4 linked regions of the Homo sapiens genome follow. The protein of the gene in region 2 interacts with the protein of the main gene of each other region in a pairwise test. Each region holds a gene or a part of one and is shown on either strand. Other genes may lie near its edges. The genes, in order: SLC39A14, BDKRB1, HILPDA and SLC44A2.

Region 1 (6,519 bases), on a different chromosome or scaffold from region 2:
AGCCCTAAGCCCCATAGGGCCGGCGTGTGCTGCCTGAGTGTCGGCACCCGGAATATACTGTCTGTGTTACTGCAAGTCCCTGTTTTCTGCTGTCGTTATTTACTTGTATGGCTTTTTTTGTTTTTTTTGTTTGTTTGTTTTGAGACAGACTTTCGCTCTTGTTGCCCAGGCTGAAGTGCGGTGGTGCAATCTCGGCTCACTGCAACCTCCGCCTCCTGGGTTCAAGCGATTCTCCTGCCTCAGCCTCCTGAGTAGCTGGGATTTCAGGCACGCGCCACCACGCCCAGCTAATTTTTTGTATTTAGTAGAGATGGGGTTTCACCATGTTAGTCAGGCCGGTCTCGAACTCCTGACCTCAGGTGATCCACCTTCCTCAGCCTCCCAAAGTGCTGGGATTATAGGCTTGCGCCACCGCACCTGGCCTACTTGTATGGTTTTTAGGCTTCCATTGCTGTTTGCATCCGTCTCTCCATGGAAAAGGTGTTTCTCTTGGATAGCAATTTTGATAGTTTCCCTAGGCTTCTCCGCAGCATCTGGTGAGAGATGGACTCAGCAAATGTTTACTGATGGGTTGGTGGATCTCAGTCTGCCCCATCACACCTGAATTCAGAACAGGGCCGCCCCAGGCAGCAGGAGTGTCCCCACCCTCAGTAATAGAGGCCCTCGTCTGTTCTTGTTCCTCCACAGTGTGGGGCTTTGGTTTTCTCAGTGTCTCACTGATTAACCTGGCCTCTCTCCTGGGAGTCCTCGTCCTGCCCTGCACAGAGAAAGCGTTTTTCAGCCGTGTGCTCACTTACTTCATCGCCCTGTCCATTGGAACGCTGCTGTCTAACGCGCTATTCCAGCTCATCCCAGAGGTGCAGTAGAACAGAAACTTGCGCGTCCTCTTTCCCTGGGGCGGCACAGCTGAGCCAATCCCCTCCTCCCCTACCCTGGGCTCCAAGGCACCCAATGACTGCCACCTGAGAAATGAACCTGTCCCTCGTATCAAAGCCACAAACGACTTCTAACTCTGGATCTCAGGGCCCACCTCTCACTCCTCTGGCCTCTGCAGGTGCTGTCAGATGCAAGGTTCTTCCAATTTCCCTCCTCCTGGGGACTTGACAGTCTCCCCTCCCTTGTTAAGCCCCATACATAAGGCATCAAGGGAAAGCAGCAGCTATCGACTGCCGTCCATGCCTTTGGTGCTAAGTACTTGCTCTATTCTAAGGAGAAATCCTGGCAGTACTCAGGTCTGGGCACCAAGAGCTTATCCATCTGGAATGAGATGGAAGGAAAAGAGGTTACCAAGTGATATGTAGAATTGGCCTAAAAAGCGAGTGTTCTTTAATTTTGAGCAGGCCATCGTTTCTAGCATAGAGAGCCAAACACAGAACAAAGACTAAGACCAAACAAAATTAAAATGACAAGATAAATGGAAGGGGCACTCAGCCCTTTGTACCTTGCATCTTGACTTTTTTCTGATAGGACTGACTTCCTGGTACCTTGACTTGACTGTTTTGAAATGTTAATTTTGTTGTTTAATTGTTATCATAGAGGAGCTATAAAAATAAGGCCCAAGTTGACAGTCTGCCCACTTTTTTAGCTCAAGCAGGGATGCTGCTGTGGAGGGTGAGGATACGCAGACGTGTGGTTGACCCCATTAGGGAGTCATGGATGCTGCCCTTCACAAAGATCCCATGTCAGCTGCTTCTCAGGCTTTCCCAGTCAAAAGACTCACCCAGAAAAGACAGCAGATGGGATGCCATGCCTTGCCTGTTCTTCCTGGTTGAATGTGAACCATCTTGGTGCCATCTCAAAATTCTGCATGGCTCTGACAAACACTTTGCAGGGGAGGCCTCAACTTGGGCTATTTTTTCAGCTCCAGCAATGGAATATATTAATTTTTTAAAGATTTGAAATGAAAGGCCTTGTGACCTCCTGGAATGGAAATACTGTAATTGTGTGTGCTCCACCCCTGTGGCCTGCCAGGGAGTGTCTCATCCTGGTCTGGTTCTGTCTTGCCCTCTTTTGGGCCTGGACAGAGTGTCACAACTGGGAAATGTTCAAGGAAATATTTTTGTGACAGGGTGTTCCTGGAACTCTGTTCTTTGTGCTTGAGCCCCTCTCAGAGCACATGGAAATGAGCAAAGAAGTTGAGAGGTTAAGACACTGAATTTTATGGGCATTGGGCATGAATTAATCGTTCTCCATCCCTTCTGCCCTGCACATCTGGCTTGGTTGTGTCTTGCACAAAGCAAACCAAGTGGTCGTGGTGTCACCCGAGCCTGCGCCGTGTGAATTGGACATGCAAAAGCAAACGCAGCAGCAGAGTGATCAGCCTCTTTCCACCTGCTTGCATGTCCTATAAAGAGAGCCCTCGAGTCCAAAGTCTGTCCTGGACAGCCTCTGTGATAGGTCTGGGCAGACCTTGGGTGTGTGACGAGGCAGCACCCTGCCCTGCCAGTCACACCACTGGCAGGAACGATTTGGGGCCACCAGTGGCCACAGGGGCAGAAGTCACAGGGTTCCAAGGCCACCTTGAATTCCTCTTTCTTCTGAACTGATTGAAGGAAATTTCATCAGATGTGAATCACTAACAAATTTTCTATTTCTCTCTCCCTCCCTACTTGTCTCTCTCTGATTTTTCTTTTTTGTTCCGTTAATATCCACCAAACTTTTCCTTGCGACCTCCCTATCTGCTCCACCTTCCTCCCGCTAAATGGTGGTTGCTGTGCAATGGGGCATGTGCCTTCTCTCCCTGCCCTGGGTGGGGCTGGCCCTCCCTCCGCACGGCAGTGTGGGGATACGGTCTCCTCTGTGTGACCGTCATCTCCCTCTGCTCCCTCCTGGGGGCCAGCGTGGTGCCCTTCATGAAGAAGACCTTTTACAAGAGGCTGCTGCTCTACTTCATAGCTCTGGCGATTGGAACCCTCTACTCCAACGCCCTCTTCCAGCTCATCCCGGAGGTATGGCAAGCCAGGGCCTTCACCCCGGAGCATGCCGGCGGGCACAGTGGGAGGACCTCCGTTTGGATAGAAGGCATAGAGAGGGCACCTGGAGGCCCTTTCCTTTTGGAAAGCGAAGCTAGAACTTAGGCGTGAACTAGGAGAGGCAGCCCAGCATAGGCTGAAGAGCTGGGTTCAAATCTCAGCTCTGCTATCAGTAGGTTCCGTAACCCCAGGCACACCACTGACCTCACACTGCCTCTGTTTCTTCAGATGTGAAATGGGGAGAGCAATAGACCGGCCTCAGGATGATGTTGTGAGGGTGGAACGAGCGAGTCTGCTGCAGCACTGAGTGCCTGGTGCGGAAAGTGCTGTCTGATGTGGGGTGAAAAGATGCAGTGTAGCGAGCTCACTCTGGCTTAGTTGTGGTGCTCAGATTAAGGCTTTGGGTGCAGAGAAGTTTAAAAAACATCATCAGCCGGGTGCAGTGGCTCACACCTATATTCCCAGCACTTTGGGAGGCTGAGGCAGGTGGATCGTTTGAAGTCAGGAGTTCAAGACCAGCCTGGCCAACATGGTGAAACCCCGTCTATACTAAAAACACAAAAATTAGCCAGACGTGGTAGCGCACGCCTGTAATCCCAGCTATTCGGGAGGCACAAGAATCACTTGAACCCAGGAGATGGAGGCTGCAGTGAGCCGAGATTGCACCACTGCACTCCAGCCTGGGTGACGGGAGTGAGACTCCGTCTCAAAACAAACAAACAAACTCCCACATCATCAGAACCCACAGTTCTCAGTAAAAAGATTGTCCATAGGGAGTTTTGGGGCAAAGGCAATGCAAGTCAAACAATGTCTGGTTTTATATACCTTGATGGTACCTTTGCCTAATAAGTTCATGAGAAAACTTGCCACAAAAGAAGGAGCTGATGGTTCATCTAATTTGGTGTAATCCCCTCAGCAGACCCATTAATTACAATAAGCACAGGACGTCTCCCTGTGGGTGGTCTCGCAGGCCTGGACAGAGCCGCAGTTGAAGCAGAGATGACTGCATGCGCCTCTTACAACACTTGGTGTTTTCTGAAATGTCAGTTGGCTCCCTCCTAGTGGATCCTTAGGTTAACTCCATGGCATCGATAGAACAAGTAACGTTTTACCACGTTGGAATCTGACCTGCACAAGAGCGCATATCCCTGAGTCGAGAACCCAGCTTTTGGGATTTCTGAAGCTCAACCCCATGATTCTGTATTCACCATCCTTTGTGGCTTTTTGCAGAGAAGTGTTCGTTGCCTATTTTCACTTCACTTTTCCCCCAAGATGATTCGACTCCCCTGGAAAGTCAACATGAAAGTGTTGTTTCCCTGGAGGGTGGTGATTCAATTTGGCCTGTTTAAAACATAAAGGCAACAAACAGCCCAGAGTTCCTTGAAGTTGGGATCAACTTTTATTTTGGACCAATTCATGAGAGGGCTGAAGTTTATTCAAGGCCCGTTTCCCATCAGAAAATGGAGGAACAACCCGGTAAATATATATACTTCCTATGTACCCACAAAAAAATTTAAGAATAAAATAGGAGCAAGTCGTTAGATACTTTTTTTTGTTTGTTTTTGAGACAGTCTCACTCTGTCACCCAGACTGGAGTGCAGTGGTGCCATCTCGGCTCACTGCAATCTCTGCCTCCTGGGTTCAAGCCATTCTCCTGCCTCACACTCCCGAGTAGCTGGGATTACAGGTGTGCCACCAGGCCCAGCTAATTTTTGTATTTTTTTTTTTAGTAGAGTTGGGGTTTCGCCATGTTGGCCAGGCTGGTCTCAAAACTCCTGGCCTCAAGTGATCCACCCACCTCGGTCCTTTAAAGTGCATGAGCCACCGTGCCCGGCCAGGTCATTAGACACATTCACAAGAACCCACCATAAATCAGGAGCTTACCCTAGGACAGAATTCTCTTGATTTCTACTCCTGTCCTCTTCCCAGTGGATTCTCCCCTCCCTCTTTGATAAGTGACAGTTTCAGAAAGGACTCAAAACAAAACCCAAAAATTGACGCTCGCAATAACACAGTCCACTTTCTTGGTTCTGTGGTCACTGGGAGGTCTGCGGTTAGGAAAACGCTGCAGTTCTTATTACTTAACTGGGAAATGGGTTTCCCGTTTTAGAAAGTATAATTACACCATCTCCCTTTGTGTTTACAGGCAGGTCAGCCAGGAACACTAGATAAGATGAAAATAAATACAAGTGTCTGCTCCTTCAATATGAAATCTATTGGCAGAGAATGCCTTCATAGCAAAGCACCAAGATAAATCAAAAGTGGAAAACCATATCGGAGGTTTTTCTTTCTGGGATTAAAATTCTACAGATGATCAGTCTTTTGCATCAGCAAATAAGCTTGAGAAGAACCTGGCAGGTTTAGTGATGTCACATCAGGGAAACACCAAGGACTAGATTTTTGCTGGAAAGAGGATGGGTAGACGGCAGAGTTACTCCATTATGCCTCTCTCCTTTCCTAGAGTCAAGGAAGTAGTTAAGAGATAAGAGGGGGATCAGTAAAGATGCTTTATTTTCTTTAAAACTCATTTTCTTTTCCTGGGTCCACAGGCATTTGGTTTCAACCCTCTGGAAGATTATTATGTCTCCAAGTCTGCAGTGGTGTTTGGGGGCTTTTATCTTTTCTTTTTCACAGAGAAGATCTTGAAGATTCTTCTTAAGCAGAAAAATGAGGTGAGGCCCAATTGTTGCTGAAGAAAGCTCTTCTAGGGAAAACACCCATCTCAAACAATGTTGATGTATTGTGGTGGTGGTGGTGATGGTCTTAGCCCAATATCACAATTTCCGTGAAACTCTAATTTCTTGAGGAGACAATCCCATTTCACCTCCTGAGGATATTTGGCCAGAAGTGAGGCCAGACCAGAAACTAGATCTGGCCAGGGTGCCTTCTACTAAGCAGTAGTTTATCCCCTTTGTTTTGTTCTAAGATTATTTCCTTAATATATTTGTATCTTTACAGGATGGGGAGAAGAGCTTGATACCATGCATTCATTCTGTATGAAGTATGAGGCTGCAGAGAAACAGGACTATTATAGTACAGTTTCAAAAAGATATCTTTAGTGGCTGGCATGCAGTTATTCCCTAAATAGCTGCTGAATTGAGTGAGATTAGCCATTGCAAAAGAGGAGCTCTAAATATTTGAGCAGTGGCTGCCTTGGTGGAATAAGCATGTACCCCGAGGAGACAGCTTTGATATCTGTCTGACACCAGGTCCTTCGCACTTGGTGCAGATTTATATATATAGATATTAGAAACGGGGTCTCGCTTCGTTGCCCAGGCTGCTCTCAAACTTCTCAGCTCAAGCAGTCCTCCCACCTCGGCCTCCCACAGTGCTGGGATTACAGGTGTGAGCCACCGTGCCCGACCATGGCTTTATATAATAGCTTTTGCTATGTTTCTGGGCACGTGACCTGCTTGTGTCATCTTCGATGGTAAGGCTGAGGTCTTCCAGTGTGTGAAGCACTTCCTTGGAGCAGGTGCTCAATCAGGTTTGTGGTTTTGGTGAATGTCATGCTGATCCCTCCCTGTCACCCTTCCAGCATCATCAT
Region 2 (3,027 bases):
CTCAGAGAAGTTAACCAGCTTGTCGGAGAAGACCTAGGTGGTGGTTACAGTGCTACGCCAGGAACCTTGGTCTGCATGGACCCCAGAGGCCGTGCTCACAGCCATGCAGCTGACTGGCCTCCCACGCTTGCTGGAGGAGCTACAGCTGGTGGGTACAGTGTACACTATGAACCTTGGTCTGCATGCACCCCATAGCTCATGTTCATAGCCACGCAGCTGACCTGCCTCCCATGCTCCCATGCTGAGTTTCACCGGGAGAGGGATAGAAAGCTCTGTCTCTTTCCATAGGGAGGACTGCATCTCCCAGCCCTCTGCGATCCCACAAGGGGTAGATCCCATCCTGTGCTCATGGCTTCGTGGCCTCCTGCTGGCAAAACCGGCCACAGCCAACTCAGGGATCCACAGAATACTATCTGCAGAATGAGCAGCTGCCTACACTGCGGGATTTATGCGGCTCCAGACAATCTTCAGAGCCTAAACATTCTTCCCCAGCTTGGATAGGTTAATATACGCCCGGTGCTTGGCAGGGTTCCTGACTTATTGTAAGCACGTGGCAAACATTAGTTGTCACTGTCATGATTGTTATTAATGGGTGACACCTGAGATTCCTTCAACCCCGCAAAGCCTCACAGATACCAACAAAAGCTATTGTGTAGCAGAGAATTAACCTTGGAAGAGCATATTTGGCTGTGTAACCTCAGGAGAGTCAGTTCATGTCTCTGAGCCTGACTTTCCTCATCTAAGGAAGACATGATGTCCTCAAGAGGCCCTTCTAGCTCTGACATTCTGTCATGTCACTCACATGGAGTTATTCACACCGGGGTATAATTCACTGGTTCCTCCAGTTATTTATTTGCTGAACAAGTATTTACTGAGAATGTACTATGTGCCAGGCACTGTTCTAGGTATTTAGGACAAAGCAGTGAATACAGCAGGCAAAAATCCCTGCTCTCAGTGTGCGTATAAGCCTAGCAGGAGGAAGAAGTTGATAAACAATACACACACTAAATAAACATGCTGGCGGGTGACAGCTGGGGAGAGTAGCAGGGCAGGTGGTGAGAAGTGATCAAGTGATCAAACTCTAGAGGTGTTTTGGAGGTAGTAACACCGTGATTTTCAGTTGGATCTGGGTGGGAGAAAGGAGAAATCGGACAATGCCAAGGTTTTTGGACTGAACACTGGGAAGTATGAAGTTGTCATCAGCTGAAATGAAGGTGACAGAATGAAGATGAAGCAGTTTTTTTTGTGGGGGGTGGGGAAGAACAGGAGTTCAACTTTGGAATTGTTAAGGTTGAGATATAAATTGGACATCACATGGGGACATCCAGCAGGCAATTAGGTAGACAAGTGTGGTATTCAGGGACAAGATCTGGGATGATGAGACCTAACTGGGAGTTGTAACTATAGGAATGGCATTTAAAGCCACAAGGCTGGATGAAATCACCAAGGGAGAGAGTAGATAAAAGAGCAGAAGTTGCACAGCTGCCGGTTGACAGATCAACAGGAGACATGGGAAATTATGATTTGGTGGTTGTGAAATGTCCATGGCACATGGAAGCTGAGCAGTCCCCACCCAGAGCATAATATGGAGGAGGCTGGAGGCTCTTGTTACAATAGTTTGGTCATTTTTTGCAGGGCATAAATCCAAAACTATGTGTATTTTATCATTTGGCAATACTTAAAGAATTTGAAATAAACCCTTTTGGAGTAATGAGCTAAAAAACAAATATTTAATGGAAATTTAAGTACTGCACTTCTGTTGCTCAAGGAAGTTGTTGATGAGCAGATAGCTTGCATAGAACGTTTGTTGACATTTGCATCACTATGGGGTCTGTAGCAATTTCACTGATTGCAAGAAAACCTAAGACACAGAGCTGCTACTTTAGAAATTAGTAATTTTAAGAACATTGCACCAGGCTGGGCGTGGTGGCTCAAGCCTGTAATCCCAGCACTTTGGGAGGCCGAGGCAGGTGGATCATGAGGTCAGGAGTTCAAGACCAGCCTGGCCAAGATGGTGAAACCCTGTATGTACTAAAAATACAAAAACTAGCTGGGTGTGATGGCAGGTGCCTGTAATTCCAGCTACTTGGGAGGCTGAGGCAGAGAATTGCTTGAACCTAGGAGGCAGAGGTTGCAGTGAGCTGAGATCGCACCAGTACACTCCAGCCTGGGTGACAGAGTGAGACTCTGTCTCAAAAAAAAAAAAAAAAATTGCACCCTAAGACACGGTTCTCATCCATGTAGCTGCAAAAGATGCTGATATAAGATCATTCTGAGAGGCATGACTTTTCCCTTAGATCAAATGACTGTTCTTTAAGTTAACTCAGCTCACATTTAATTCCAGCTTTTCTTGTGCACGTGCAACAGTGGAAGTGATGGCTGACTGTGTGTTGGCTCCATAAGAAGAACATCACAGAAAGCAAAATGGTGCCAGCTCAACACCAGTATCCTCGGACTCTTCAGACAGAAAAACCTGTTAATTCCAATCACAATTCATTCTTTCATTCAGCTCATGGAAGCCAAGCAGGGCTTTGGGACATTCATTCTGGCAAAGTGAAACAACTGACTTTTTGTGAATGCTATTTAAGTTGTTTAAATTTTCCACATTGGAAATAAAGTCATTGCATTTTTGTGAGGATAAAACACAAATTGTGGTGGAGTCCAGCGTCATGGTAACAATAATATTCCTACTAAATTAAGACACTAATGAAACAGAAATGTGATTGGAACAGGTCATGGTGCACACACAATTTGTTATTGCATATAAATAAATGTCAATATTCTATAAATTGACATTTATAGACGTACGTGACAAAATTTACAAAATGTTAAAACATATGCACAGATTTACTGAACTACAAACTTGTGATAAAGTTGTTCATGAATTTTTTTAAAAAACTGGACTTTCACATGTGTTTTCTCTTTTATTTTCCCATTATCAATCAATTTTAGTGGACATTGAGTCTCAGCATCCTAAAATGTTATTAAACAGTGTATTAAAACAGATCTATAAATTTTCGTTGAATT
Region 3 (9,240 bases), on a different chromosome or scaffold from region 2:
ATTTTTCTTCTTCTTTACAGATCTAGTCATGACAGGCCTGCAATAATCGTGGCCTAGGCTCACATAACTGGTTGATACATGGCAGACCCAACTGCCTCTGCCCCCAAATTCAGAAGTCTACTGATACTATGTTTTAAACAAAGTGATTTAAGCACTTTCCTGCTCCAAAGTATTGAGATGTTAAAATTAAACCTCAGGTCTAGAAATTAAGACCCTCCCTACCACGAATTTCAAGAGCAGAAGTCAACATGACACACAGTAGAAATATATATTCCACTTTATTAGTTAGAAAAAATCATTTAAGCCACATGGTGGCCACAATGTCCATAACTTGAGCAGGCTTTGGCATCCCACCACCCCCTTCAGACCAATACACACTATGTTGGAGGAACGACTTTAAAATGTAAAATGAGAAATGGGCACTGAACACTCCATCCTCACTCCCAACAGCCCACCCACACAACCTCTTCAACTGCTATCCAAACATGGAGGAGCTCTTGTGGAAGAGAGGCTCAACACCAAATAATTGAGCATAAGACATTCAAGACTAAAGGAACCCCAGACAGATGTTTAGGAAGTAGGGTTGAAAATATCACCATCTCCCAACAGCTGAAGTTGGGACATCTAAGAGATGTCAGAGCCATACTGCTGAGGAAAGCACAGCATACACCAGACCCCGGGGTAAGGGCGAGATCAACCTATCTCATAGCCATAAGCAATCCACTCACACCTGTGCATTAAACAGGCTTTTTCTTTTCTTTTTTTTTTGAGATGGAGTCTTGCACTGTGGCCCAGGCTGGGTACAGCAGTGCGATCTCGGCTCACTGCAACCTCCGTCCCCGGGTTCAAGCAATTCTCCCGCCTCAGCCTCCCAAGGAGCTGGGATTACAGGCCTCTGCCACCACACCCAGCTAACTTTTGTATTTTTAGTAGAGATGGGGTTTCGCCATGTTGGCGAGGCTGGTCTCGAACTCCTGACCTCAGGTGATCCACCCACCTCAGCCTCCCAAAGTGCTAGGATTACAGGCATGAGCCACCGCAACCGGCCTAAACAGGCCTTGCCCAGGCAATGAGCATCCAGTTAGACAGGTTCTTCAAGGCCTAGTAATAGTTCTCTGGTTACAACGGTGCTCAGCTTGTCTGCTAGGAATGGGACTCCCATCTGGACATGTCTAGGTCAGTGTTCCAAAATATGGCCAGTATGGAAGGAGGTCTTATCACATGCTTCTGGATGGATGGTCTGGAAGGCCCTTGGTGGGCTCTGTGTTGGCTAGTTGGCTTCTGGTGGTCCAGGAGGTCCCAGGCGATGGGCTCTCTAGTAAGCCCTCTAGGGACTCCATCACTCTAACGAAGATGGAGAGTAGGGTCAGTACCACACCTAACAGGTAGAGGTTCAACACATGCTTCATGGCTGAAAGGACCCTACTCCTCTGCAGAGAAACAGAGCTGCCTTCTCCTTCTGAAAGGCCTCTGGACCCTGAGAAAAAAGAGGAAAGGATGAATCTATAGCCTTTTGGGGATATGCATGCATCCAGCCCTGACTCTTCTGTCCTCTCACAGGGCTGAAGGAGAGGCTTAGCCAGTGAGGGACACAGGGACCAGGGAGTTGCACAGCAACTCTCCAAGAATATTTTACATTGCAAACTTCATGGCTGCGGAGCCAGTGTTGCTTCTTGGACTAATTCAAGAACACTTCTTAAAACTTTTACTTTCTTAGGCCAGGCGCGGTGGCTCATACCTGTAATCCCAGCGCTCTGGGAGGCCGAGGCGGGTGGATCACCTGAGGTCAGGAATTCGAGACCAGCCTGACCAACATGGTGAAACCCTGTCTCTACTACAAATACAAAAATTAGCCGGGCATAGTGGCACATGCCTGTAATCCCAGCTACTCGGGAGGCTGAGGCAGAATTGCTTGAACCCGGGAGGCAGAGGTTGCAGTGAGCCAAGATCGCGCCATTGCACTCCAGCCTCGGCAACAAAAGCAAAACTCCGTCTCAAAAACAAACAAACAAACATTTACTTTATTGAAAATTTTGTTCCTGCAAGGCACAATACACAACCCCTGTGCTACAGTGCAGGCATCAGTCACCTTCCTGAAATAGGCCCAGTCCTTTTGCAGGGGGGTGGTGGGTAATGGGAAATATAAGAACATGCCCTGGAGAAAGGAACCTGCCTAGAAGTCTCTCCCACATCACAGATTGGAGTTAACTACAAACTTTTTGCAAGTCCAAATAACTCTATGAGGGTCAAATCTATCAAGTTCATTTATTTAACAAACATACCATGAATATCTGCAATGTGTTAGGTACCCTGGAAGATACTAGGGCCACATTGCAAACCTTATAGACAAAGGGTAGTTAACACGCAACACGCTAAGTGTTGGGACAGCAAGGAGATCGTGAAGGTGCTCTGGGAGGGCATGGCAGGGATGCCTAACTCAGCACCTGTGGGCGTGGGATGGGCCACGTGGATCCTAGTTAGGACCACCTTAGGACAAAACAGGGCTGACGGCTGAATGGGGACCCCAGATGGGGCGTGGGCGATCAGAGAGGATCCCGGCGGCGCACCCCCAGCCCTGGAACGCGAGGCTGCTAGCGCGGCGAGCACTCTAGCGATGGGGGTGGGGAGCCGGGGAAGCCCACAGGGCCGCTCACCTCCGGGGGAACAGCCGGGAGTGGATCGCCGGCTGTAGGAGCAGGTCGTGCAGGAGTCCGGAGGAAAGTCGGTTACTAAGCACCAGCGCAGAAGCTTCCCGCCACAAAACTCACCGGAGACAAAAGCGCCGTCAGCCGCAGAGCGCAGAGCAACGCCGCCCAGCCTCCGCCCCTTATAGCCGCGAGCACGCCCCAGGAGGGTACGCGCACGCGCACTGGAGGCCGCACGCACGCCCGGGACGCACACGACGTGGCGCACGTCCGCGGCCCCACCCCGCGGGCAACGGGGTTTGGGGATTGTCCCGGGTGCTCTCCCGCGGAGCTGTTTCCAAAAGTACACGTCGTGCGGTTTTGAGTCATTGTGTTCTGGAGTGAGACGAGGCGTGTGTATTAATCTCGACTGCCATCTCTGCTGTAGAAAACATTTGAAGGAGTCAGAGAGCACATATCCCTTCTCCCCAGTAGGTGAAAAACACCGATGGCCTTCGTGTCCGTGAAGCCCCGCCGTGAAGGGTGGGTTCTTCCCCAGAGATTTCGGGTGCACTAAATTGTCAGAGGGCACCAGACCCCTACCCCACTCGTTATTTTCTTCATTTCAAGGACTGAAGAGCTGGTTTTGTTTCACTTCATAGCTGTACCAAGATTCCAAATCCCGAGTTTCAGTTGCCATCGGTATCTCTGGAATGGTGAGGCCCTTGTGCAACATATTAAGCTCTGCAAGCTCTGCTTTCTATGAGAGTTTGTCGTGTCGCTTCAGAAAACGTGAAATACTCCTGGCCCTGGTGTGGGATCCTAACTGCATATGGGCAAGTCACTTGGTATTTAAATGGGCCTCGGTTTTCTCATCTGTAATGAAGACATTGGCCACTAGATGATTTTTCTTCTTCTTCTTCTTTTTTTTTTTTAAATAGAGACAGTCTCGCTATGTTGCCCAGGCTGGTCTCGAACTCCTGATCTCAAGCCATCCTCCCACCTCTGCCTCCCAAAGTGCTGGGGCTACAGGCGTGAGCCACCGCGCCCGGCCGCTAGATGATTTTTAAGGGTGCTTTCGGCTTGAACTAAAGAGCCAGGAGGTCACAGACCAGCCTTATGTCCAGATTTGGGGGGCTAGGCTGCCTTACTAATCACCCCCGAACCCACCCAGCCAAGACTGTGCGGTCTGTCTTGAGAGCACGCAACGGGGGATCTCAGAAAGTAGAGTCCCGGAGAGACACTGGGAATGGGGAGGACCCCCGGGAAGGGGTGTACACGCCGTGGAAGGGAAGGCCGCTGGTGGCTTTAGAACTGGCGGTTCCGTGTACCCGGGTCAAGTGCCCGTGCCGGATGGGAAAGAACCCTGTGACTTTCCACATCTCAGCGAGCTCGGCGGGCTCTGCTTAAGAAGGGCTCTAAGACGGGAAGGGAGGAGCCATCCCCACTGCGACCTTTCCCCTCCTTTCCTGGCTGGCTGGCTGTGGTCTGTCGGGAATGAGGGGGTGGGGAAGCCGGGAAAGCAGAAGGTTGGGGCTGGAGGTCTGCTGGCAGGCAGGCAGACATTTGGAGCCAACTTTCCTGCTCAGCCCGCAGAACTTTTGGTCCTTCGCTATACCAGAGTTTCGTCTGTTTTTTTGCTTGACTGTGTGACCCTTCTCTCACACTGTTATTAAATAGGTCTCAAGCTGCGAAATCACTGCCAGATCCAAACGCCACTACTTTGCCAGGTGAAGGCCTTGGGCGAACCCTTTAACCTTCTTGTAGTTCTGTTTCCTCAGCTGTTCTGTGAGATCATAACAGTCTTAACCTGATATTAAATGAATTAATCCATATAAAGCGCTTAGAACAATGCCTGGCACATAAAAAACATTCTATGAATCTTAACATTATCTGTATCATCAACTACAAAACTCCCAGTGAGGGGTTTTGCTCATTAGCAGCCTAGGCTTGCTGAATGAATGCAGGAATTCTACAATGACCATTTGAGTTCTACTTAGTTTGAGTTCTAAATTTATACTTCACACAGCTGGAAGAAGGGATGGGCACCTCTCCAACAATTCTTTCTCCCCATATTCCCTGCCATTGTCTAAAGGTCATGCCAGTTGGAAATAAGAAGGGTTTGGGTGAGGGCAGCTCTATGCTTTACCATTCTGTCAGCTACAAATGTAGCTACCTGCATCAGGATTTAGTCCTGCCTTCAACACCTTGGCCAGGCTAACTGACCCCTTTGAACTTTAGTTTCCTTATCTGTAAAATGAGGAAAATAATCTGTAAAACAGGGTTGTTGTGAGGGTTGGAAATAATGCCCATAAAGAGTATGTCATATATGCTCAACAAATAGTAGCTATTATTTTGCTAAAAAGTATAAAGCCAGATTCTTGTTCTAAATAAGCTTGTCACCTGGTTGAGTAAACAAGACCTGAATAAGATAAGATAACTAACAACCCAAGGCAGTGTGGGGTAGAGTTTAGAAGTAAGTACATAAGTAGGGTGGTAATGTTTTGCTTGGGGAACTGGGATTTTAACATTCACTATGGTTATTTAAAAAAAAAAAAAAAAAAGAGCTGGGCATGGTGGCTCACACCTGTAATCCCAGCACTTTGAGAGGCTGAGGCGGGCAGATCACCTGAGGTCAGGAGTTCGAGACCAGCCTGACCAACATGGACCAACATTCTCTACTAAAAATACAAAATTAGCCAGGCATGGTGGCGCATGCCTTTAATCCCAACTACTTGGGAGGCCGAGGCAGGAGAATCACCTGAACCTGGCAGGCAGAGGTTGCACTGAGCTGCGATCAGACCATTGCACTCCAGCCTGGGCAACAAGAGGGAAACTCCATCTCAAAAAAAAAAAAAAGAAGAAAGAAAGAGTGGAAACAAAATAAGCATTCTTCAAGTAACTGATACGTGCTGAACATTTTGCTAAATGCATTACATGTATTATTTAATTTTTCTAACGATGCTATGAGGTAGGTATTATTGCCTCTCTTCTTTATTTGTTGTTGTTGTTGAGAAAGGGTCTCACTTTGTTTTCCAGGCTGGAGTACAGTGGCACGATCACTGCTCACTGCAGCCTTGACTTTCTGGGCTCAAGCTATCCTACCACCTCAGCCTCCTAAGTAGCTGGGACTACAGTTACACACCACCACACCCAGCTAATTCTTTCTTTTTTCTTTCTTTGCCACCACCACACCAGCTAATTCTTTTCTTTTCTTTTCCTTTTCTTTCCTTTCTTTCTTTCTTTCTTTTTCTTTCTTTCTTTCTCTTTCTTTCTTTCTTTCTTTTTCTTTCTTTCTCCCTTTCTTCCCTTTCTTTCCTTTCTTTTCTTGCTTTTCTTTCTTTTTTTTTTGTAGAGATGGGGTCTCTCTATGCTGCCCTGACTGGTCTCAAACTCCTGACCTCAAGTGATCCACGTGCCTCAGCCTCACAAAGTGCTGGGATTACAGGTGTGAGCCACCATACCCAGCCTTCTTTATTTGTTAACTATGCTTTTTCTTCCAGAGGAAGAAGAGACTTTCTTCACCTAGTCTTTTACTCATCTTTCATATCTCAATTCAAACATATTTCCTCTGGTCACCCTTGCTGACCCTCGGACCCTGTTCCGGGCTCCAGTGGCATGATAGGCATTTCTTTCCCAGTGTGTTACTTTACCCTTAGTTGTATTAATGTCTGTGTCCTTTCAAAAGCCTGAAAATGTCAGTGAAAGGAGTGTTTGGTCTGATTTTGTTTCCATTCCATCTCCAGCAGCTAGCACCAAATAGTAGGCTTTTGATAAATATTTGTTGACTGAAGGAATAAATGAATGAATATTTTACCCAGCATCTTCAGTGAGTACCCATTGTTTCATCAAGGAAATGTAGATAAGGGCGCCAAGAGAAGCCGTTTTCAGGTGCTACCTCCTCCTTGGAGCTGCAACCAAGGAAAGCTTTTTATAAGCTGCCCTTCCCCCAAAGCCCCTAAAAAGAAGTGATTCTGAAGTCAACCCACACAAGAGTACCATACTAAGAACACAAGTATTTTCACAAATTTGATCTTATCATCAAGTGTTCATTTAAATAACATGTACTTACATTTCTGGTAAGTATAAACTGGTACATTCAGTATGGAAATCAATTTGTCAGTAATTGTTACCCTGACCCCCACTTGTTTTTTAAACACCTCAAGACCATTGAGGTGTTAAAAAAGACCACTGACTACCATTTGGCAATGTCTATAAAAATAAAAGCATACACATGCCCTTTAGCCCAGAATTCCACTTTTAGGATTTATCCTTCCACATGTAGAGAATGGAGTGTTTAAAGGTAGCACTGTTGCAGCACTGTTTGTGATAATGAAAGACTGGAAAAAACAGCCCATCAGTAGAGAACTGGTTAAATAAAAGATGGTGCATTCAGACAGTGAATTACCATAAAGCCAGAAAAAAGAGAGTAAGTTCTGTATATATCGACAAGATCTCCACAATATATTGTTAAATGAAAAGGGTTTATAGTATGTGAGCAGTATGCTACATTTATGTTAAAATGAACATAAAAAATAGAATACAATGAGACACCACCTCACACTCACTAGGATGGCTATAACACAAACAAGCAAAAAAACCCAGAAAAGAACAAATGTTGATGAAAATGTAGAAAAAACAGAACCCTCATACATTGCTGTTAGAATGTAAAATAGTGCAGCTGCTTTAGAATAGTTCCTCAAAAAGTTAAACATAGAGTTACTGTATGATCCAGCAGTTTAGCTCCTAAATATATACCCAAGTGAACCGAAGATGTATGTTCACACACAAACGCTTATACACAAATGTTCATAGCAGCATTATTCATAATAGCCAAAAAAGTAGAAACAACCCAAATGTCCGTCAACTGGCTAAAGGATAAACAAAATGTGATACAATGGAATATTATTCAGCCATAAAAAATGAAGTATTGATACATGCTACAATATGGATGCACCTTGAACACATTATGCTAAGTGAAAGAAACCAGAAACAAAAGGGTACATATCGTATGATTCCATTTATATGAAATGTCAGAATAGGCAAATCCAGGGCTGGGCGTAGTGGCTCCCACCTGTAAGCCCAGCACTTTGAGGATCCCAGCACAGAGACCAAGGTGGGCAGATCACTGGAGGTCAGGAGTTTGAGACCAGCCTGGCCAACATGGTGAAACCCTGTCTCTACCAAAAAGACAAAATTAGCCAGGCATGGTGGTGCTGACCTGTAGTCCCACCTACCTGGGAGGCTGAGACAGGAAAATCGCTTGAACCCAGGAGGCAGAGGTTGCAGTGAGCCGAGATCACACCACTGCACTCCAGCCTGGGCAACAGAGCAAGACTGTCTCAAAAAAAAAAAAAAGGCAAATCCACAGAGACAGAAAGTAGGTAAGTGGTTGCCAAGGGCTGGAGGAGAGGGGACTGGGGAATGACTGCTAGTGGGTACAGGGTGGTTTTTTTTTTGGTGTGTGGGCTGGTGATGAAATGTTCTAAAATTAGTGCTGACAGTTATACAAGTCTATGAATGTACTTAACCATTGAATTGTATCCTTTAAAACGGTGGATTTTGATATGTGAACTATATCTGAATAAAGTCATTATTTTCTTTAAAGGAGGGCAAGTTGAAGACATCGTCAGATGACAAACAAAAACAGAGTTAGCTGCCGTAGGCCCTTACCGTGGAAACTACTGAAGAATGAACCTAAGACACAAGAAAACTGAACCCAAAAGGAAATAGGGAAATGCAAGAAAAAATGGTAAGGAAATATTTACAAAACATATGGATGTATCTAAACAAATTATGACTACTCAAAACTATTTTTAGTAATAATGGTTGATTTAGAAAAGTAAAAATAACAAGATAAACTGAAAAATTGGTAAACATTTCAGATGGGAACAGTGAGCAAAGATGAAGTTTAATATGTTTTTATTTGGGAGGAAAGTAAATATTGATTAATGTTAGACTTTTTTTTTTTTTTTGAGACAGAGTCTTGGTCTTGTCACCCAGGCTGGAGTGCAATGGTGCAATCTCGGTTCACTGCAACCTTCGCCTCCCAGGTTCAAGTGATTCTCCTGCCTCAGCCTCCCGAGTAGCTGGGATTACAGGCACCCACCACCATGCCCAGCTAATTTTTGTATTCTTAGTAGAGACATTTCACTATGTTGGCCAGGCTGGTCTCAAACTCCTGACCTCAAGTGATCCACCTGCCTCAGCCTCACAAAGTGCTGGGATTACAGGTGTAAGCCACCACACCCAGCCAATTTTAGACTTTTTAAGTCTGTATATTAAAATGTTAAGAGTTGGTTGGGCGCGGTGGCTCATGCCTATAATCCTGGAACTTTGGTAGGCCAAGGCAGGTGGATCAGTTGAGGTCAGGAATTCAAGACCAACCTTATTAAATAAATAAATATATTTATATTTATTATTTATTTTTATCTTTTTGAGACAGTCTCACTCTGTCACCCAGGCTGGAGTGCAGTGGTGCGATCTCAGCTCATTGCAACCTCCACCTCCCGGGTTCAAGCGATTCTCCTGCCTCAGCCTCCCGAGTAGCTGAACTACAGGTGCCAGCCACCACACCTAGCTAATTTTTGTACTTTTTTTTAGTAGAGATGGGGTT
Region 4 (7,557 bases), on a different chromosome or scaffold from region 2:
CAGCCTGGCCAAGATGGTGAAACTCCATCTCTACTAAAAATACAAAAATTAGCCGGGCATGGTGGCGGGCTCCTGTAATCCCAGCTACTCGGGAGGCTGAGGCAGAGAATTGCTTGAACCCAGGAAGCGGAGGTTGCAGTGAGCCAAGATCATGCCACTGCACTCCAGGCTGGGCGACAGAGCGAGACTCCGTCTCAAAAAAAGAGAAGACTTCTCATCTTAAAGCCAGGAAAATGTAGCTGCGTGCGGTGGCTCATGCCTGTAATCCCAGCACGTTGGGAGGCCAAGGCAGGCGGATCATGAGGTCAGGAGATCGAGACCATCCTGGCTAACATGGTAAAACCCTGTCTCTACGAAAAATACAAAAAAATTAGCCGGGGGTGGTGGCGGGCAGCTGTAGTCCCAGCTACTCAGGAGCTGAGGCAGGAGAATGGCGTGAACCCGGGAGGCGGAGCTTGCAGTGAGCCTAGATCGTGCCACTGCACTCCAGCCTGAGTGACAGAGCAAGACTCCATCTCAAAAAAAAAAAAAAAAAAAAAAAAAGGCCAGGAAAATGTATGATGTGTGTATTACTAGGTTTCTCCGAGAAAGCTAATAGGAGGTAGGTAGATGAGAGGGGATTTAGCAGAATAATTGGCTCATGTGATCATGGAGGCTGAGATGTCCTACCACATGCATTGACTGCAGACCCTGAAAAGCCAGCAGCTCCAGTAGCTGAAGACCCTGCAAAGCCAGTAGCGAGGCTCAGTCTGAATCCTAAAGCTTCAGAGCCAGGGACACCAATGGTGTAATTCCCAGTCCAAGGCCGAAGGCCTGAGAACCAGGGATCACTGGTATAAGTCTTGGAGTGTCAAGACAGGAGGAGAAGAGTGTCCCAGTTCTGAGGAGGAAAATGCTTTCTCTCCTTTTTCTGTTCTGTCGGAGCCCCAGCAAGTTGGATGGCGCTCACCCAGAAATAATGCTTTATCAGACGTGTTGCTCTGTCGCTCAGGCTGGAGCACAGTAGTGTGATCTCAGCTCACTGCACCCTCCACCCCCTGAGCTAAAGTGACCTTCTCACTTCATCCTACTGAGTAGCTGGGACAACATGTGCATGACCACCACACCCTGCTAATTTTCATAGTTTTTGTTGAGACAAGCTTTCCACATGTTGCCCAGGCTGGTCTCGAATTCAAGCTCAAGCGATCTGCCCACCTCGGCCTCCCAAAGTGCTGATTGCAGGCGTGAGCCACGGAGCCCAGCCACTGTTTTTTTTTTTTTCTTTGTCTTATTTTTACCACATCACAGCTCAAATCTGAGTATTTTCTAATCCAGCCAAGTTCACACCTAAAATTAACTATCACAGCACAGTGTGGTTGGAGGCAGGGAATATACCCAGATAAAGGAACTTGGCAGAGAGTGAAGCCAACCCAGAAGTGGAGCCAAAGCATGAAGCCAGAAAACACTATGGTGGTTCCTCAAAAAATTAAACATAAACCAGGCACAGTGGCGAGTGCCTGTCATCCCAGCTACTTGGGAGGCTGAGGCGGGATGATCCCTTCAGTCCGGGAGCTCAAGGCCAGCCCAGGTAACATAGTGAGACCCAGTGGCTTAATAAATAAGAAAGAGATGGAGATGGCAAATTTTATGCTATATGTATCGTACCACAAATCTTTTTCTTTCTTTCTTTTTTTTTCTGAGACAGAGTTTTGCTCTGTTGCCCAGGCTGGAGTGCAATGGTGTCATCTTGGTTCACCACAACCTCTGCCTCCTGGGTTCAAGCGATTCTCCTGCCTCAGCCTCCCGAGTAGCTGGGATTACAGGCATGTGCCACCATGCCTGGCTAATTTTTGTATTTTTAGTAGCAGCAGGTTTTCACCATGTTGGCCAGGCTGGTCTCAAACTCCTGACCTCATGATTCACCCGCCTCAGCCTCCCAAAGTGCTGGGATTACAGGCATGAGCCACCGCACCCGGCCGCCAGGAGCTATTTTTTAGGTGGGCATGGTAACAGGAGCTGGGGCTGAATAAAATGCCAGATTCAAAGGATCCAGGGAAACAAAGGCATCGAGGAAGGGGTCAGTGCCAGCATAGGGTAGAACTTGAGGACTCTGGAGCCAAGACCTGGGTTCAAATGCCTTCTTGGAAACAAACAAACAAAAATGCTGGCCAGGCTTGGTGGCTCATGCCTGTAATCCCAGCACTTTGGGAGGCCGAGGCAGGTGGATCACATGAGGTCAGGAGTTTGAGACCAGGCTAGCCAACATGGTGAAACCCCGTCTCTACTAAAACTACAAAAATTAGCTGGATGTGGTGGTACGCGCCTGTAATCCCAGCTACTCAGGAGGCTGAGGCACGAGAATCACTTGAATCCAGGAGGTTTAGTGAGCTGAGACTGTGCCACTGCACTGTGGCACTATGCACTGTGGCCTGGGCCACAAAGGGAGACTCTGTCTCAAAAAACAAACAAACAAACAAAAAAAACCAGCATGGGCAATATGGTAAAAATCAATCTCTACAAAAAATACAAAAATTAGTCAGGTGTGGTGGTGTGTACCTGTAGTCCCAGCTACTCGGGAGGCTAAGATGGGAGGATCACCTGAGGCTGTGGTGAGCCATGATTGCACCACTGCACTTTAGCTTCAGCCAGAGTGAGATCCTGTCTCAAAAAAAAAAAAAAAAAAAAAAGGCTGGGCCAGGTGGCTCACGCCTGTAATCCCAGCACTTTGGGAGGCCGAGGCCAGCGGATCACCTGAAGTGAGGAATTTGAGACCAGCCTGCCCAACATGGCGAAACCTGGTCTCTACTAAAAACACAAAAAATTAGCCAGGCGTGGTGGCAGGCACCTGTAATCCCAACTACTCGGGAGGCTGAGGCAGAAGAATCGCTGGAACCCGGGAGGTGGAGGTTGCAGTGAGCCGAGATCGCACCACTGCCCTCCACCCTGGGTGACAGGGCAAGACTGTCTGAAAAAAAAAAAAAAAAAAAAAAGTGGATATTGAAGAAAAATTCCCTGAGAGGAGGTGGAAAGAATTGAAATGTTGGGGCGGATTGCCTGGAGGTGACTGACACTGGCAGCTGGCACGAGGGGGCAGCAGCGAGCTTCCAGGCAGTGGGGCCCACCCCAAGGGCAGTCAGTCCCTTCGCAGATCCAAAGTAGCTGGGGAGCATAGTGACTGCAGGACCTCAGGTGCCTGGGCCCTGAGAGAGGGGAGGCCTGGGGGCGTGTGTCCAGGATGGGTGATGGCGGAGGTGGACAGGCTGCCTCTGCCTTCTGGAGTCCAGGGATTAGAGCCTAATCGGGAAATCTGAGCTGCCTGAAGGTTGGAATTCAGGCAGAGCCAGCAGCCAGTGGGTTTCCTGCCCCCTCCTCGTTCCCTTTGAGAGAATCGCCCTAGTTCAGAGACTCCTAGGGCCTTGGAAGCTGGGGTTCCCCCTACCAGCCGCCACTGGCTCACTGCCCCCAACAAACACACCAGGCCTGGACCTGTACAATAGGCACTTTATTAGTGGTTGGAATGCAGTTACACGCAGGGGTGTGCAGACGCAATGGGGGCAGGGCTGGTGCAGGCACAGGAAACGGGAGACCCCCCCCTCTTTCCCCTGGGGCCAGGAGTTCTCCCTCTCCAGGATCCTGGGACAGTGCTGATGAGCAGAGACATGAAGTCTGAGGGGGACTTGGAATATGGCAAAGGGGCAACTGGGAAGCCAGTTCCCCTGAGTTTGACAAGTTTGGCAAAAGGATCAAGTGAGGTGTGTGGGCAGAGGGGCCCGGTTTGCCCAGGACATCTGCCCTCCACCTCTCCCCCTGACATCATCCCTTGGGTGGGTTTAGTTTCTTTCCTCTCTTACAAAGAGAGCTGTGTCAATAACTGGCAGAGGAAGTCGGGAAATTCAGCCTAACTCCCTCCAGCCCAGCAGGTTTCCATTAAACAGCTATTAGCCATCTCCTCTCCAGCCTGCTCTCCACTGCCAACCCCCGCAAAACTCTCCCTCCCTTTCCCTCCTTCCCAGCCAGGAGACACCCCCACCTGGGCACACACACTCCCACCCGTCACTCCCAGCTAGGAGGGAGCAAAAGGAAGGCACTCCTTGGCGGCCCCATCTCAGCTGTTGAGACAGACGGAAAGAAAGCTAATAGACCCTTTAATGCATGTCCAGGTTAAAAAATAATAATAATAAAGAAATGCTTCTGGTGGCCCTTGAGCCAACTGTTCAGGTGTGGAGAAGGGGTTCAGTCCTGGCCGGAGCAGGCAGGAATAAACGTGGGTGTTCACTGTGGCCAGCAGCTCCCTCAGACACAAACACCGTCCTTCCTGTGGTCTGGCCCGTTGTCGTGTAAGCGGGGGACAGGAAGCATGAGGGAGCTTGTGGAGGTCGGGCCACGTGCCATCCCAGACATCAAGAGGCCCCAATGGGTTTTTACTTGTTTCTCGCAGTCTGGAGGGGCAGCCATGAAAACTCCAAGCGCCCCTTGGCATAAGAAGGAGATGCCCCAGACTCTCCACGTCCAGAAACTGGTGGGATCTGGCTCATGGGGAGGGGCAGAGCGGCAGTGATAGGACTTCAGGTGAGCCCAAGGGGCTGGGGGAACAGACCCAGCTACTGAGCACCCTGCGGCATGAGACTCCTTGAGAGGTGGGGAGCACGGGGCCTTCAGGACTCCGCTGCCTTCTTGTTGGTCTTGTTCAAGAGTTTCTTGAGGGTGGAAGACATGAAGTAAGGCCTCTCGGCCGAGCCGTCATTCCTCTCCAGGTCCTCCACTGTGGAGAGAGGTCCCAGAGCAGGAGGCATGAGGGGAGCCCACGGGCAGGGGCCTCAAGGACAGGGTAGGTGGATGAGGGTCACAGAGAAGCCTCAGAGGGTTAGAAAGCAGACACACTGGGACCAGAGAGGGGCAGACTGTAGTGGGCTCCGAGGGACACACAGGATCCCCACACTCGCAGGCCAGGAACCCCCCCGCTTCATGCACCCCCAGTCTACATGGAGGAAACCTGGCCCCCACGCCAGTCTCCCTCACTCTCTACTCCTCGGCTTCTGCCCGCTTCCCCTCCTCCGCACTCCCCTTCAACAGGATGTCTCTCAGCTCGGGCGACATGAAGTAGGGTCGCTCCTGAGAGCCGTCATTCCTTTCCAGGTCCTCACCTGGGCTCCCCCCGGGAACCGGCAGGGGGAAAATGGGGTGGTCGGGAAGGGAGGGAAAGAGGGAGGCAGGGAAGAACAGGGAAGCCAGCAGGCATGGAGGAGAGGAAGAGAGAAGAAAAAAACAAACAAAAAAAACAGATGGAGAGACCAGAGTTAGTGGCAGCCACAGATCCCCTCCCCCCAGTCAAAGCCAGAAACTGCGAAGCGCGGGCGGGCTCCAGGGCAGCGTCCAGGCTGCAGCCTGGGCCAGTGGACAGGAGGTCGGAGCTGCTTCTAAGCGCAAAAGGAAACCAGGAAGACAGGCTGGGGACCCAGGACGAGGGACAGCCAAGCCCTGGGGAAGCTGGGGGCAGGCAAGCGTGTTGCCCCGTTGGAGGGTGATGTGATGCCCAGTGGAAAGAAGGGATTCGGGGCCCAGCAAGGTTTGGGGTGAGGGGTCACTCACAGAAGCAGAGGAACAGCGTGTCCACACACATGCCATAGACGCTGAAGAAACCGTGTGCAATCAAGTAGGAGCCAACGATCACCGTCTGGGCAAGGAGAAACGAGCTGTCCCTGCTCCGTGTCCTTCCCAGAGCAGCCCCCACCCCCTGAGTCCATCCTATGCTGGGACCACATCCTTCCCCTGCTGAGAAACCCTCTTTGGATTAGTGACATCCCAACCCCTCACCCCCGCTGGCAGGGCCCCACCATCCACACAAAATCCTCTTTCTCTCTCTCCGTCTTTTTTTTTTTTTTTTGAGACGGAATCTCACTCTGTTGCCCAGACTGGAGTGCCATGGTACGATCTTGGCTCACTACAACCTCTGCCTTCCAGGTTCAAGCAATTCTGCCTCAGCCTCCGGAGGAGCTGGGACTACAGGCACGTGCCACCACGCCTGGCTCATTTTTGTATTTTTAGTAGAGACGGGGTTTCACCATGTTGGCCAGGCTGGTCTCAAACGCCTGACTTCAGGTGATCCACCTGCCTCGCAGCCTCCCAAAGTGCTGGGATTACAGGCGTGAGCCACCGCACACCCGGCCTTTTTTTTTTTTCTTTTTTTGAGACAGGGTCTCACGGTCTCACTCTGTAGCCCAGGCTGGATTGTAGTGGTGCAATCTCAGCTCACTGCAACCTCTGCCTCCTGGGCTCAAGTGATCCTCCCGCCTCAGCCTCCGGAGTAGTTGGGATTACAGATGTGCACCACTGTGCCCGGCTAACCTTTGTATTTTTTGTAGAGATGGGTTTTTGCCACGTTACCCATTACCCATCCTGGGCTTAAGAGATTCGCCCACCTTGGCCTCCCCAAGTGCTGGGACTACAGGTATGAGCCACTGCACTCAGCCTCACCCTTGCTTTCTTTAACCCCTGGGCCTCTGCATGTGCTATTGTCCTGACTTAAATCTAATTTATGCCCCATCGACCTTCTGCTTTCAGCTCAAAGAGCAAGTCCTCAAGTCCCACCTCCTCCAGGAAACCACCTACGACACCTAGAGTGGGCGTTTTTTTTTTGTTTTTTTTTTGAGACAGGGTCTCACTGTGTTGCTCAGGCTAGAGTGCAGTGGCCCCATCTCAGCTCACTGCAGCCTTGACCTCCCAGGCTCAAGTGATCCTTCCACCTCAGGCTTACAAGGAGCTGGGACTACAGGCATGTTCCAGCATACCCAGCTAATTTTTGTATTTTTTTGTGGAGATGGGGTTTTGCCATGTTGCCCAGGCTGTTTTCAAACTCCTGAGCTCAAGCGATCTGCCTGCCTCGGCCTCCCAAAGTGCTGGGATTATACATGTGGGCCCCTGCGTCTGGCTGAGAGCCTTTTTTTTTTCCCTCCTGAGACGGAATCTTGCTCTGTCACCCAGGCTGGAGTGCAGTGGTGGGACCTTGGCTCAGTGCAACCTCCACCTCCCGGGTTCAAGCGATTCTCTTACCTCAGCCTCCTGAGTAGCTGGGACTACAGGTGCGTACCAGCACACCTGACTAATTTTTTTGTATTTTTAGTAGAGATGGGGTTTCACCATGTTAGCCAGGATGGTCTCAATCTCCTGACGTTCATGATCCGCCTGCCTTGGCTTCCCAAAGTGCTGGGATTACAGGTGTGGGCCACCATGCCCGGCCTCTAGAGCCTATTTTATGTCCTCCTAGCACTGGGCACCCCTCCTGAGCTCTTGGTGCAGCTGCAATTTTATGCATGTTTAGGGCTTTCAGGTTTAATGCTCACATCCTCACTAGACCCAGTCCCATTTACTGCTGCATCCCTAGCAATCTGGAGACTCACACGGCCTTGGTAGCTGCTAGATAAACATTTGTTGACTGAAGTCAGTGGACCTGGCTGGGCGTGGTGGCTCATGCCTGTAGTCCTTGCACTTTGGCAGGCTGAGGCAGGAGGATCCCTTGAGTCCAGAGTTCAAGACCAGCCTGGCAATATAGGGAGACACTGCCTCTATTATTATTGTTAT

What was found.
Region 1: the proteins of BDKRB1 (region 2) and SLC39A14 interact in a two-hybrid assay, tested with the Homo sapiens proteins (one large-scale study listed by BioGRID and IntAct).
Region 3: the proteins of BDKRB1 (region 2) and HILPDA interact in a two-hybrid assay, tested with the Homo sapiens proteins (one large-scale study listed by BioGRID and IntAct).
Region 4: the proteins of BDKRB1 (region 2) and SLC44A2 interact in a two-hybrid assay, tested with the Homo sapiens proteins (one large-scale study listed by BioGRID and IntAct).

Annotation. Positions count from the first base shown.
Region 1 is NC_000008.11:22,409,259-22,415,777, forward strand, and holds part of SLC39A14 (metal cation symporter ZIP14 isoform a precursor), read left to right. Parts: intron 1-687; coding exon of another isoform or gene 688-857; intron 858-2,778; coding exon 2,779-2,948; intron 2,949-5,521; coding exon 5,522-5,644; intron 5,645-6,510; coding exon 6,511-6,519. UniProt on the Homo sapiens protein: Electroneutral transporter of the plasma membrane mediating the cellular uptake of the divalent metal cations zinc, manganese and iron that are important for tissue homeostasis, metabolism, development and immunity.
Region 2 is NC_000014.9:96,259,210-96,262,236, reverse strand, and holds part of BDKRB1 (B1 bradykinin receptor), read right to left. Parts: intron 3,007-3,027; exon of another isoform or gene 2,345-3,006; intron 149-2,344; exon of another isoform or gene 1-148. UniProt on the Homo sapiens protein: This is a receptor for bradykinin. Could be a factor in chronic pain and inflammation.
Region 3 is NC_000007.14:128,449,438-128,458,677, reverse strand, and holds HILPDA (hypoxia-inducible lipid droplet-associated protein), read right to left. Parts: upstream 2,801-9,240; 5' UTR 2,655-2,800; intron 1,478-2,654; 5' UTR 1,410-1,477; coding exon 1,218-1,409; 3' UTR 260-1,217; downstream 1-259. UniProt on the Homo sapiens protein: Increases intracellular lipid accumulation. Stimulates expression of cytokines including IL6, MIF and VEGFA. Enhances cell growth and proliferation.
Region 4 is NC_000019.10:10,640,463-10,648,019, reverse strand, and holds the end of SLC44A2 (choline transporter-like protein 2), read right to left. Parts: intron 5,654-7,557; coding exon 5,569-5,653; intron 5,124-5,568; coding exon of another isoform or gene 5,002-5,123; exon of another isoform or gene 4,742-5,001; coding exon 4,635-4,741; 3' UTR 3,463-4,634; downstream 1-3,462.